Homo sapiens: one gene and its partners. The protein of the gene in region 3 purifies or fractionates together with the protein of the main gene of each other region. This does not show direct contact. Each region holds a gene or a part of one and is shown on either strand. Other genes may lie near its edges.

Region 1 (3,727 bases), on a different chromosome or scaffold from region 3:
CTGTCAGCTTTTAAAAGCTTTTACCCATAATTCCCAGTACCTAATTTGCTTATTTAGAACTTGCTGTTAATTTCTTACATTTCCTGTGTATATGAAAGAACTTTGTAACTCAAATCCAACTTCTAGATAATAAGAAAAAGCCTGAAAGGGTAACTGTAACTGATTGGTCTATATGCAACATGGTCAGAACTGCAAGGGAAAAAGTGCCTGATCGGGGATCAAAATAGAGAAACCTCAAAATTCCTGGCTTCTCCAAGGTCAGGATTTCATGGCACGGTATCATTATTCTAAGAAAGTGAATAACCAAATAGAAGTGATATCTACATTCAAATATATCTAATGTAATCCAAAGCTAAATCAAAATAAGTTTAGATACTCTATGCCTCTATCCTTTCCTGTTAGTCTGGCAAAGTTGACCATGTTTGGTTTTGCACCAATTTGATAGTAAATCTTGTGAGATATAATGTAATCTCAAATAGTTTCAGCTTTTGCAGTAAATGGCACTAACACACATTTTCACTTTTATTTTTTTTTCACTTTTAAGAACCATATGTCGACATTGCAGTATTTATTTATAATGAAATCAGAATTCATGACAAGTTGTCATGACCTCTGATTAAATCACATCTGCCAGATGCATCTCTGTTAAGCATGGTCTCTAGAGTTTTACATTTTCACCCCCTCATCCTTTCCTCATCTTTCTAAATCACTACCTACATATTAAATACTGCCTATGAATACAAGGGAAATCTGCATAATGTCAGATATAGCTCACAGTGGGAGGAGCAATATGCAAATCACTTTTTCCATTTTCAGAAGATAGTGCCAGTGCCACTTAAAAGTACTCTTCCTGAAACCAGAGTTCAAATCTACAACTGGAATAATGCCCAAAGTCACTATGTACACAATGCTGAACTTTGTCATTTTAGGTGTAGGCAAAGGTTTCTATTTGAGGATGAATGGCCAGGCTATTTTTAGTCCCCCAAGAAGGATGGGTTGGATGGGTCACTGCAGATGGGAATCCTCATTACCCAAGGACCAAGACGACCGCCTTCTCCAGAGCTGTACAGGCAGCTGATAAAAGGACTATGGGGGAGGTGGGACAATCCACCTCTGTTCTGTGACATTAGAATTAGCTGTTACTTATTTTTTAAAGTGATCTAAAGGTGGTGGTGGGGAAATGAAACAGAGGAAGTAACATTGCTTTCCAACGGTTCAGTTCATTCAATGTAGCTACAAGATTAAAAACAAATTAAGACCATGTAACTTTGAGGCAATCACTTTTAGCTTACTTATAATAGCAGCGTTGTTCGTTTCTTTGCGAAAACGAAACTTTCTCAGCTTTTCCACTAAATCTTCGGCAACATCACAAACAACCAAAGACTCACTCTATAAAAGAAAAAAAACACACATAAAATGCCATGACTTCAATATATGTACATGTTAAAGTTATGAAACCTAATACCTTTATAATGCATACTGACATTCACAAATGTCAATTAAGTGAAAGCATTAAATACATGAACACTTAAAAGAACTTTAAAATCAACCAACCTTTGGATCTACATTGCTTAATCCTACAAATTTGTTCATCTCATATATGTAAGGTATATTTTAACTTTCTCTTTGGCTAATGAATGTCTCAAAAACCACACACATAATAATGTGCAATGTCATCAGAACTGGAGAGGAAGGGAAGAATATGGGGAAAGTCAAGAATCACTGTCTGCTGTTAGAAAGGGAGTCAAGCATACTATTTTTACACAGTGAAGGAAGAACAAGAAAATAATCTGATTATACTTAGAATTAATAAATTATTTTTTGTCCTCACAATTACAGGGGAAAAAAAATATAAGCAACAAAAGTGTTAAAAACCCCATAAGAGTAAAGACCAATAATATTTTATATTATAATTAAATGATTATAGAGATATAAAAAGGAGCTACTAAGAATGTGCAAAAGAAATAAAAGCAGAGACAAAAAGAAACATTGCGATTGATACCACAGAAATACAAAGAATCATTAGAGACTATTATGAACACTATAACAAAATGGAAAACCTGGAAGCAATGGATAAATTCTTGGACACACACAATCTACCAAGACTCAACCATGAAGAAATAGAAAACCTGAACAAACCAATAATGAGTAATGAGACTGAAACAGTAATAAAGTCTCCCATCAAAGAAAAACTCAGGATCTGAGGGCTTCACTGCTGAATTCTACCAAAGATTTAAAACACCACTTCTACTCAAACTATTCAAAAAAATTGAAGGGGAGAACATACCTCCAAGCTCATTCTACAAGAACAGCATTACCCTGATACCACAACCAGACAAGTATACAACAACAAAAAAAAACTATAGGTCAATATGCTTGATGAACATAGATGCAAAAATCCTTAACAAAATACTAGAAAACCAGATGCAACAACACATTAAAAAGATCATTCACCGTGATCAAGTGGGATTATCCCAGGGATGTAAGAATGGTTCAACATGGGCAAATCAATAAATGTGATACATTACATTAACAGAATAACAAAAATCGTATCATTTCAAGAGATGCTGAAAAAACATTTGATAAAATTCAACATCCTTTCATGATAAAAACCCTCAACAAATTGGGTATAGAAAGAACACACCTCAAAACAATAAAGGCCATATATGACAAACCCACAGCTGACAGCATACTAAATGGGGAAAAACTGAAAGCCTTTACTCTAAGTTCTGGAGTAAAACAAGGATGCCCAATTGTACCACTTTTATTCAACATAGTACTGGGAGTCCTAGCCAGAGCAGTTAGGGAAGAGAAAGAAATAAAAGACATCCAAGTTAGAAAAAAAGAAGTCAAATTATCCTTGTTTATGACAACATGATCTTATATTTAGAAAAAGCTAAAGACTCCATTAAAAAAAAAACTATTAGAACTGATAAATGATTTCAGTAAAGTTTAGGATACAAAATCAACATACAAAAATCAGTAGCATTTATATACAACAACAGGAAACAATCTGAAAAAGAAATCAAGAAAGCAATCTCACTTACAATAGCTATAAAAAATTTAGGAATAAATTTAACCAAAGAAGTGACAGATCTCTACAATGAAAATTATAAAACACAGATGAAAGAAATTGAAGAGAACATACAAAAATGGAAAGATTCCAAGCTCATGGATTACAAGACATAATATTGTTAAAATGTCCATACTAACCCAAAGTGATCTACAGATTCAATGCAATCCCCATCAAAATACCAATGACATTCTTAAAAGCAAGAGAGAAAAGATCCTAAAATTTGTAAGGAGCCACAAAAGACTGTGAATAGCCAAAGCAACCCTCAGCAAAAAGAACAAAGCAGTACTTCAAAATATACTACAAAACAATAGTTACCAAAACAGCATGATCCTGGCATAAAACCACACACACAGGCCAATGAAACAGAATAGAGAACCCAGAAGTAAATCTACACATTTATAGCCAACTCATTTTGGACAATGATGCCAAAAACATACACTGGGGAAAGGACACTCTCTCCAATAAATGGTGCTGGGAAAACCAGATAGCTATATGCAGAATAAAACCAGACCCCGGGCCGGGCACAGTGGCTCACGCCTGTAATCCCAGCACTTTGGGAGGCCGAGGCGGGCGGATCATGAGGTCAGGAGTTCGAGACCAGCCTGGCTAACATGGTGAAACCCCGTCTCTACTAAAAATACAAAAATTAGC
Region 2 (3,727 bases), on a different chromosome or scaffold from region 3:
ATCTCGTGATCCATCTGCCTCAGCCTCCCAAAGTGCTGGGATTACAGGTGTGAGCCACTACGCCCGGCCACATTTTTTATCTTAATAGGGATGTAGGCTACAAGGATATATGCATTTGTAAACTGATTATACACTTAAGATTTGCATTTCACTTACAGAATTATACCTCAACTTTTTTAGAAAAAGAAAAGTGGCTGGTTATAGAGTTGCTTAAACACTCTGTGTTATTGGAACCCCTGAAAAGAATTCCAGTTCTGCCATGCATCTATGCACACTTGTTCAGCCAAAAGACATGTTCCATAACCCAGAAGTGTTACAAAGCCCTAGCCAGGCGGGTCGCTGGGCCTGTTTGCTTCCTCATCTATAACATGCTGAAGTTTACTGTCTGCTCCACCTTGGTGCCTACCATTGCTATCAAAATGAGGGCGCTTATATGGCAGTACTGTGGAAAGTTAAAACACCAGGCAATACTGGAAAAATAGGAGAGAATAGGATAAAGACTTCCTCCCCTTCTATGATTCTCCAGGGCCACCTCTATCTTCAAACTTCTCTGGGGGACTTAAGGTTGGACCCTTAACTAAGGCCTTTCCAACACCTGTTTAGCCCCCTAAGAGAGCATTTTCTATTGAATCACTACTACTATACAACCCTCCAGCCTATCTCCAAACACTTTTTTCAAAGGCCTGCCCACTGAGAAAACTAAGCCAAATGTCACAACTTTAAATTATTACCACTAACAGGGAGTGGGGAAAACAAAGAAGATACAGAAAACAGCATTTGGATCACCAGCTGGGGAACTCATGAAGAAATGGCAAAAGTTTGGGCACTTCCAAAGCATGTTGTACACATGCTTTCCATCCATCTCCTGCCTCCAAACAGGGACTTCACCAGGCAACAAGCATGATGGCCTTTTACAAACAGCAGCAATTAAAGGGAAATTACTCCTGCCTCCAGGGACACAGGCTGCTCTGTCAGCTTTCACTGTTATACACAGGCTCCTGCAGGCAGGCCTATACTAGCCAGGCACCTACCTGCCACCCTTGGGATAGGGCATGGCAGCAGGATGGGGGTCCCTGAGGGTAACTAACCAAAGTCCCAGGGAGCCCTGAAACCAGCAGACCAAACCCAGTTGCCAATTTGTCAGGGTTGACAAAGTGATACCAAGAGCCAACCATTCAGTCTTTCACTCTCTGGTCTTCCTTAGGACCTCAGTGTTACCAGCAAAAACCAGCCCGTTGGCTTACCTCTCATTGGACCGTATCATGTAGTCAGTAAATTCATGGTCTCCCTTGATCACCTCCAGGGGGACCACCAAGTTGACGTCGGAATCCGTGTTCCGCAGCTGATTGAGTTTAATATTCACTGCGAAGAGGTAATCCCGAACATCATCTATGCCCACCTTCAGGCCCTTGCACACCACATACCTGGCAGAAGATACTCTGTCACTCCACCGAGCAAGGGCTTCCTCCCCATACATTCCTTTTCCCCCAACCCCTTGTGGAATCACAAAGCTTAATGGCTTCCCTGTTCAACCTTAGGCCTACGCACAAAGAACAACACAGACCCTTTGTGGTGCTAAAGTTCCCCTCAAATCCTTCTCTGTTGAGCTCTATTTCTACTCTCTATCGCAGTAGTTCCTAACTTCCCTGTGACAGACGGGCTGTGTCACAATCACCTGGGGAGTCTGTTAAATTATAGACCTAATGAATCAAACTCTCCCAGGAGAAGGCCCAGAAATATGTGTTTGTAACAAAGCCACCGGGCAATTCTGATTGGTTGCATTTTCTCTCACCTTGTGTGTGGGCAGTGTCACACTGGGACCCCAGTAGTGCCTCTGGATAGCGGCTCCTTGCCCCTTCCCAGCCCAAGACCCCTGAAGTGTCCCTACTATTGGTCACTTTCTCCTTGGCCAAGCTGAGAATCCCTCACATAAGCATGGAGCATAAGGCTTGGAAGAAGGAGGCAGAGGCTGAACTGGCATATCACAAGACCAAAAGATCCAGGAATCCTGAATCCTGTTGGCTCTCATCACTTCTTTAAAGTCAAGGTTTTAAACGTAGCTTAAGAGGTCATGCCAGAGAGATGCACCATGATTTGCTGTTCTGACATTTAGCCAATTAATCTGGCTAATATAGAGAGAAAGGCTTCACCTCTCTGAGTTGGCAGGACGGCTGGTAATAGGCTTGAAGAGACAAACTCGTTCAAAGCAGCAGTACAGCAGGTAGACAAGCCCCACACTAAACGGTGTGAACAGGTCAAAGGTTTTACAGATGAAGTGGCCTCCTAGATTAGAGAGAAAACACCAAAAGCAGCCAATGGGTCTATTCCAAGAGATGGGTGAAGTAGTCTTGGGAGTAAATATGACAAAGTCAAGGAAACCAGCACCTGGGTCTGTTAAAACTCAGAGACAATTTAAGGGGGAGAACCATCTTTGGAGGGGACTTTGAGGATTCCACAGCCCTTTCTTCCCTAAATTACTCATTTAGCTACCTGTCCTCTAATATAAGCAGATTTTTTTAACTTCCCCACCAACCCCTTGTACATGTTCTTGTCCAATAGGGCCTCTAAGTGGGTCCTGGGGTGAGGAGACAGCTGAGGAAGTGTCACCTGTCCGGACAATGGACAGCGCCATGAGGAACTGACACAGAAGCAGCTGCTTGCTGAGGATCTCCTGCAGGTTCTCCTGCCCCTCCACCGAGAAACCCTGAAATGAGAGCACAAGGAATGGGGTGGGAAAGAGAAAAGAGAAGGACTAAGAATAACATCACTACCTCATCTTCATCGAGAGTTCTTGAAGTGTTTTCACTGATCACCATCTGATTGATGAAGAAGCAGCTCAGTGTTGAGTTATTTTAGAAGGTCACTGGGCTTGTTAGATGGAGTAAGCACAGGACCCAGGCCTACTACTGGACCAGCTCCACTTTCCTGCTCTGTCATTCTCAGGGGATGGAACCAAGCCTGCTTTTCCAAGGAGATGGTTTAGAATGTGTTTTAACTCATGGGAATCCAGAGAAGAGTAAGGCAGAACAGAGGCAAAATATTGGCTAGTCAGAGGTCAACCACAACATAGGAAACAGAATGCTCTGGTGAGTCCTAACAAGACCAGGGAGTGAGTACAGTGAGAACACTCTGCTTCGGCTTCCCACTCTGGTGAAGGAGAAAAGTTAACTTTCCTAGTCACAGTAATCTCTCTCTGTTGACTCAGGTTTTACTTACAATACCCCCTTTCCTGTCCTAAGACCACGGTGCCTCTTGTATCCAGCTGGCAGACTCTCTGGCCAGGGTATTTACTGAAAGAATGTGTGATGCTATTTCTAGAGTGGTCTCCCTCCTTGTGAGATCCCAGCAGGAGACAGAGTCAGGCTTACATAAAAGTAAAGGAGGCCAGGGGACATCAGGTGGCACAGTGTTGTTAAATGGGTACAGTTTCTGTTTTGCAAAATGAAAACTTCTGAAAATCTGTTGCACAACAGTGTGAATAGACTTAACACTACTGTTAACACTTAAAAATGATTAAGATGATCAAATTTGTGTTTTTTACAATAAAATAAAGAAAAAAGGACGCTGCCCTCTATTAAACACGCCCCAGGTGTCCCTGACTCAGTTCTACAGAAGTGATAGCTAAAGGACTCAGGATAAGAAATGTTTAGGAGTGTCTTCCAGACTTAAAGATGCTTCTCAAAATGCATGCCTGATTATGGGGTCAATTAAAAAAAAAAAAAGCCCA
Region 3 (3,500 bases):
CTCTCTCCTGCTTGAAAAAGTGGCGTTGCCAGCCTGGCTCTGCGTCCAAGCCTTTCCTGTCATCTCCTGGGCCTGCCCTGGTCTGCGCCGCTTCTGTGCATTTCTGGGTTCCTGTCCTGCCTGTTGGCACTTGCCCAGCCCTGCACCTTTCTCCCGGCTGTCTGGGGTTGGTGAGGGCTGGCCAGGCTGCACCCTGCTGCTGTTCTCCGACCACAGTGGGGGAGCCTGTTTCTGGCAGAAAGTGGGAGTTGGGGTGGGATGGAAGTGAGGGGCTGGGTGGAGTCAGGCCTGGGCCCCCTTCTGCTGCAGCCCTCTGCTGCCCTCCCCCACGTGCCCTGAGTTCCACCCTTGCCTCGCTGATCCCAACGCTCTTGCTTATGCCCCGTGCGTGCTGTTCCCACTTCCTGGTGAATCACCTGTGAGTCTCTGAAGACTCAGCTGGAATGTGACCTTTGGGACCTTTTCCACTCTTCACTCTTCTTGTTACACCCCCAGGCCACACCCATCCCCATGCCCTTGTCTCTGTTTCCCCTCTTTTTTTTTTTTTTTTTTTTCTTTTTTTTTTTGAGACGAGTCTAACTCTGTTGCCCAGGCTGGAGTGTAGTGGCGTGGTCTCGGCTCACTGCGACTTCCGCTGTCCGTGTTCAACCAATTCTTCTGCCTCAGCCTCCCAAGTAGCTGGGATTACAGGTGCACAGCACCATGCCTGGCTAATTTTTTTGTATTTTTAGTAGAGATGGGGTTTCATGTCGTTGGCCAACCTAGTTTCGAACTCCTGACCTCAGGAGATGGTGTGGCCCACCTTGCAGGCTCTTCGAGTTGATGCAGAGGGTGGGTCTGCTTTGTTTTGGCTGCTTGGGCTGTGTCCCTGCAGCACCCAGACTCAGCCGGTGCAGCCCCTCTGTTTCAGAGCTGGGGACAGCCGCCTGCCGCTGGACATTGAGTCCAGGCTGGAGGTTTTCCTTCTGGGCTCTTCTGCTGCTGCGAAACGTGAGGAGTGGAAGCGGTGAGATCAGATGGGGCGTGGGTGAGCACCCAAACGGGGTCGGGTAAGCCCTCGTTTCCAGCCTGTCTGTGTAAAGTGCACCCCCATCCCCTTCCAAGGAGCCCCCCAGTGGAGACTTCCTGTGCAGAGGGGCACATTAGCAGTGAGGCCTGTTAAAGGCCCATCCGCTGCGAAGATGGGTGTCATATAAAAGGCGGAGAAATAACTCGCTTTAGTGGGGGTGTGGATAGATGGAAGCTCATGCTTTACTGATGGGATTATAGAGTGGAGAGCACTTGGCGGCCCCTCAGAATGTTAAACAGAATTACCATGTGACCCAGCAAGTCCACTCCTAGGTGTCGACACTGGAAATTGGAACAGGGGGACTCAGGTACTCAGATGTTCATTGCAGCACTATTCATGATAGCCGGAAGGTGGAAACAGCCCCAGTGTCCTTCAGCTAATGATGGATAAGCAAAAGGTGGTCCATCCATACAACAAAATACTAATCAGCCATAAAAAGGAGTGGAATGCTGACCCGCGCTACAACATAGGTGGGCCTCAAAAACACGATGCTAAATGAAAAGAGACAATCACAAAAGGCCACACATCATATAATTCCATTTATTATTTTTTTAGAGACGGGGTCTTGCCCTTTTACCCAGGCTGGAGTGCAGTGGCACGATCATAGCTCACTGCAGCCTTGACGTCCTGTGCTCACGCGATCCTCCCGCCTCAGCCTTTGGAGCAGCTAGGACTGTAAGCACATACCACCGTGCCTGGCGAATTTTTACGTTTTTAGTAGAGATGAGGTCTTGCTACGTTGCTGTGGCTGGTCTCAAACTCCTGGGCTCGAGTGATTCTCCTGCCTTGGCCTCCCAAAGTGCTCGGATGACAGGTGTGAGCCACCACGCCTGGCCATATAATTGCATTTATATGAAATGCCCAGAATACAGAAATGCATCAGGACAGAAAGTAGACGGGTGATGGCCAGGGCATGTGGGAGGGAGGAATGAGAGGAGATTGCTCGTGTACAGGGTTTTCTCCGAGGGTGATGAACATGTTTTGGATCTGTGAGGGTTGCACCGTATTGTGAAGGTCCTAAATGCCACTGTACACTTTAAAATGGTTAATTTTATGTGAATCTCATCGCAATGAAGAGAAAGATCCTGATTACCCTGTTACCCCTTGAGGGTTTGAGTTGTCATGGCTTGGTGCGGACCATGACTCATGCCCCACCCTAGTAGCATGGCCTTTCCCCCTTGGCTAAATACCTTGGGGGAAAGTTTACTGCTGCAGTGACTTTGTTTATCAAGGTGCCTGTGTGGGAGAAGGTCGTTTTCTCTCCAGCAGTCTCATTGACACTGGGTTTCCGGAAAAAGTCCAGGGCCAGGAATTAACAGTCACAGCACCTTACCTCTTGAGAGATTTTTTGTTTGTTTTCATTTCCAACCATGCTTTTTTGTTTGAATCCCCCGATTGCTTGACACTTGTCTTTTCCTATAATGAGGTTTGTGACAGTGAACAAGGCCCCAGGTCACCTGCTCTTGGTGCCAGTCTCTGTTAACGCTACCCCAGCGCCTCAAACAGATGAGGCTCACGGGCCGGGATCATACAGGCACGGTCAGTGCCAGGCAGGTCTTGGCCCTTTGCTTTGGTTGACTTGGTTGATAATCACGGCAATCTTCTGAGGCTGGGCTGTGACTCCTCTTGCTTTACAAATGGGGAAATTGAGGCAGAGAGCGTTTTAGTAGCTTGCCCAAGACTACACAGCTAGGAGGAGGCAGAGCCAGGATCACAAAGGAAAAACTTCCCAACTAGTGTGTAGCAGTATTCTCAAGGTGAGTTTATTCAAATACAGGTGATTGTTCAGCCTTTGATTTATATTTTCTAACTCTGGTTTTAAAGAATGAATATTTAGATTGATTAAAATACAGATTTTTTTGTCCTGCCTTTGATTATATTAGCTTGGGCACTATGTTCTCAAACCCAGACTTTGTGACAATTATGGGTGTGTTTCAGTAGGTCATGGGCGTCACGATGGGCTTTTCCAGCTTTGTTTGTATCAGCTATTGATTTCTGTCACATCAAAACAATATTAGCTAGTCACGGTGGTTCACATCTCTAATCCCAACACTTTGGGAGGCTGAGGCAGGAGAATCACTTAAGGCCAGAAGCTGGAGACCAGCCTGGGCAACATAGCAAGACCCCATCTCTACAGAAGACAAAAAAAAAAAAATTAGCCAGGCATCCTGGTGTGGTCCTGTAGTCCCAGCTACTCAGGAGGCTGAGTGGGGAGGATTGCCCGAGCCCAGGAGGTTGAGGCTGCAGGGAGCTGTGATGGCACCACTGCACTCCAGCCTGGTCAGCAGAGTGAGATCCCACCTCAGCAACACAAAACAAAAACAAAACCCAAAACCCAGTATTATGTAGCTCTGATGTGTTTTAGCTACATTTTGTGGCTATATCAGTATATATTAACTTGACCATATAATTCTCAACATTTATTTTCTGT

The links.
Region 1: the proteins of MEAK7 (region 3) and GMFB fractionate together in Homo sapiens (co-fractionation; one large-scale study listed by BioGRID). This does not show direct contact.
Region 2: the proteins of MEAK7 (region 3) and CMTR1 fractionate together in Homo sapiens (co-fractionation; one large-scale study listed by BioGRID). This does not show direct contact.

What each region holds. Positions count from the first base shown.
Region 1 is NC_000014.9:54,482,379-54,486,105, forward strand, and holds part of GMFB (glia maturation factor beta), read right to left. Parts: intron 1,390-3,727; coding exon 1,293-1,389; intron 1-1,292. UniProt on the Homo sapiens protein: This protein causes differentiation of brain cells, stimulation of neural regeneration, and inhibition of proliferation of tumor cells.
Region 2 is NC_000006.12:37,460,526-37,464,252, reverse strand, and holds part of CMTR1 (cap-specific mRNA (nucleoside-2'-O-)-methyltransferase 1), read right to left. Parts: intron 2,705-3,727; coding exon 2,608-2,704; intron 2,284-2,607; coding exon 2,151-2,283; intron 1,425-2,150; coding exon 1,245-1,424; intron 1-1,244. UniProt on the Homo sapiens protein: S-adenosyl-L-methionine-dependent methyltransferase that mediates mRNA cap1 2'-O-ribose methylation to the 5'-cap structure of mRNAs.
Region 3 is NC_000016.10:84,498,160-84,501,659, reverse strand, and holds part of MEAK7 (MTOR-associated protein MEAK7), read left to right. Parts: intron 1-3,500. UniProt on the Homo sapiens protein: Activates an alternative mTOR signaling through RPS6KB2 activation and EIF4EBP1 repression to regulate cell proliferation and migration. Recruits MTOR at the lysosome, essential for MTOR signaling at the lysosome.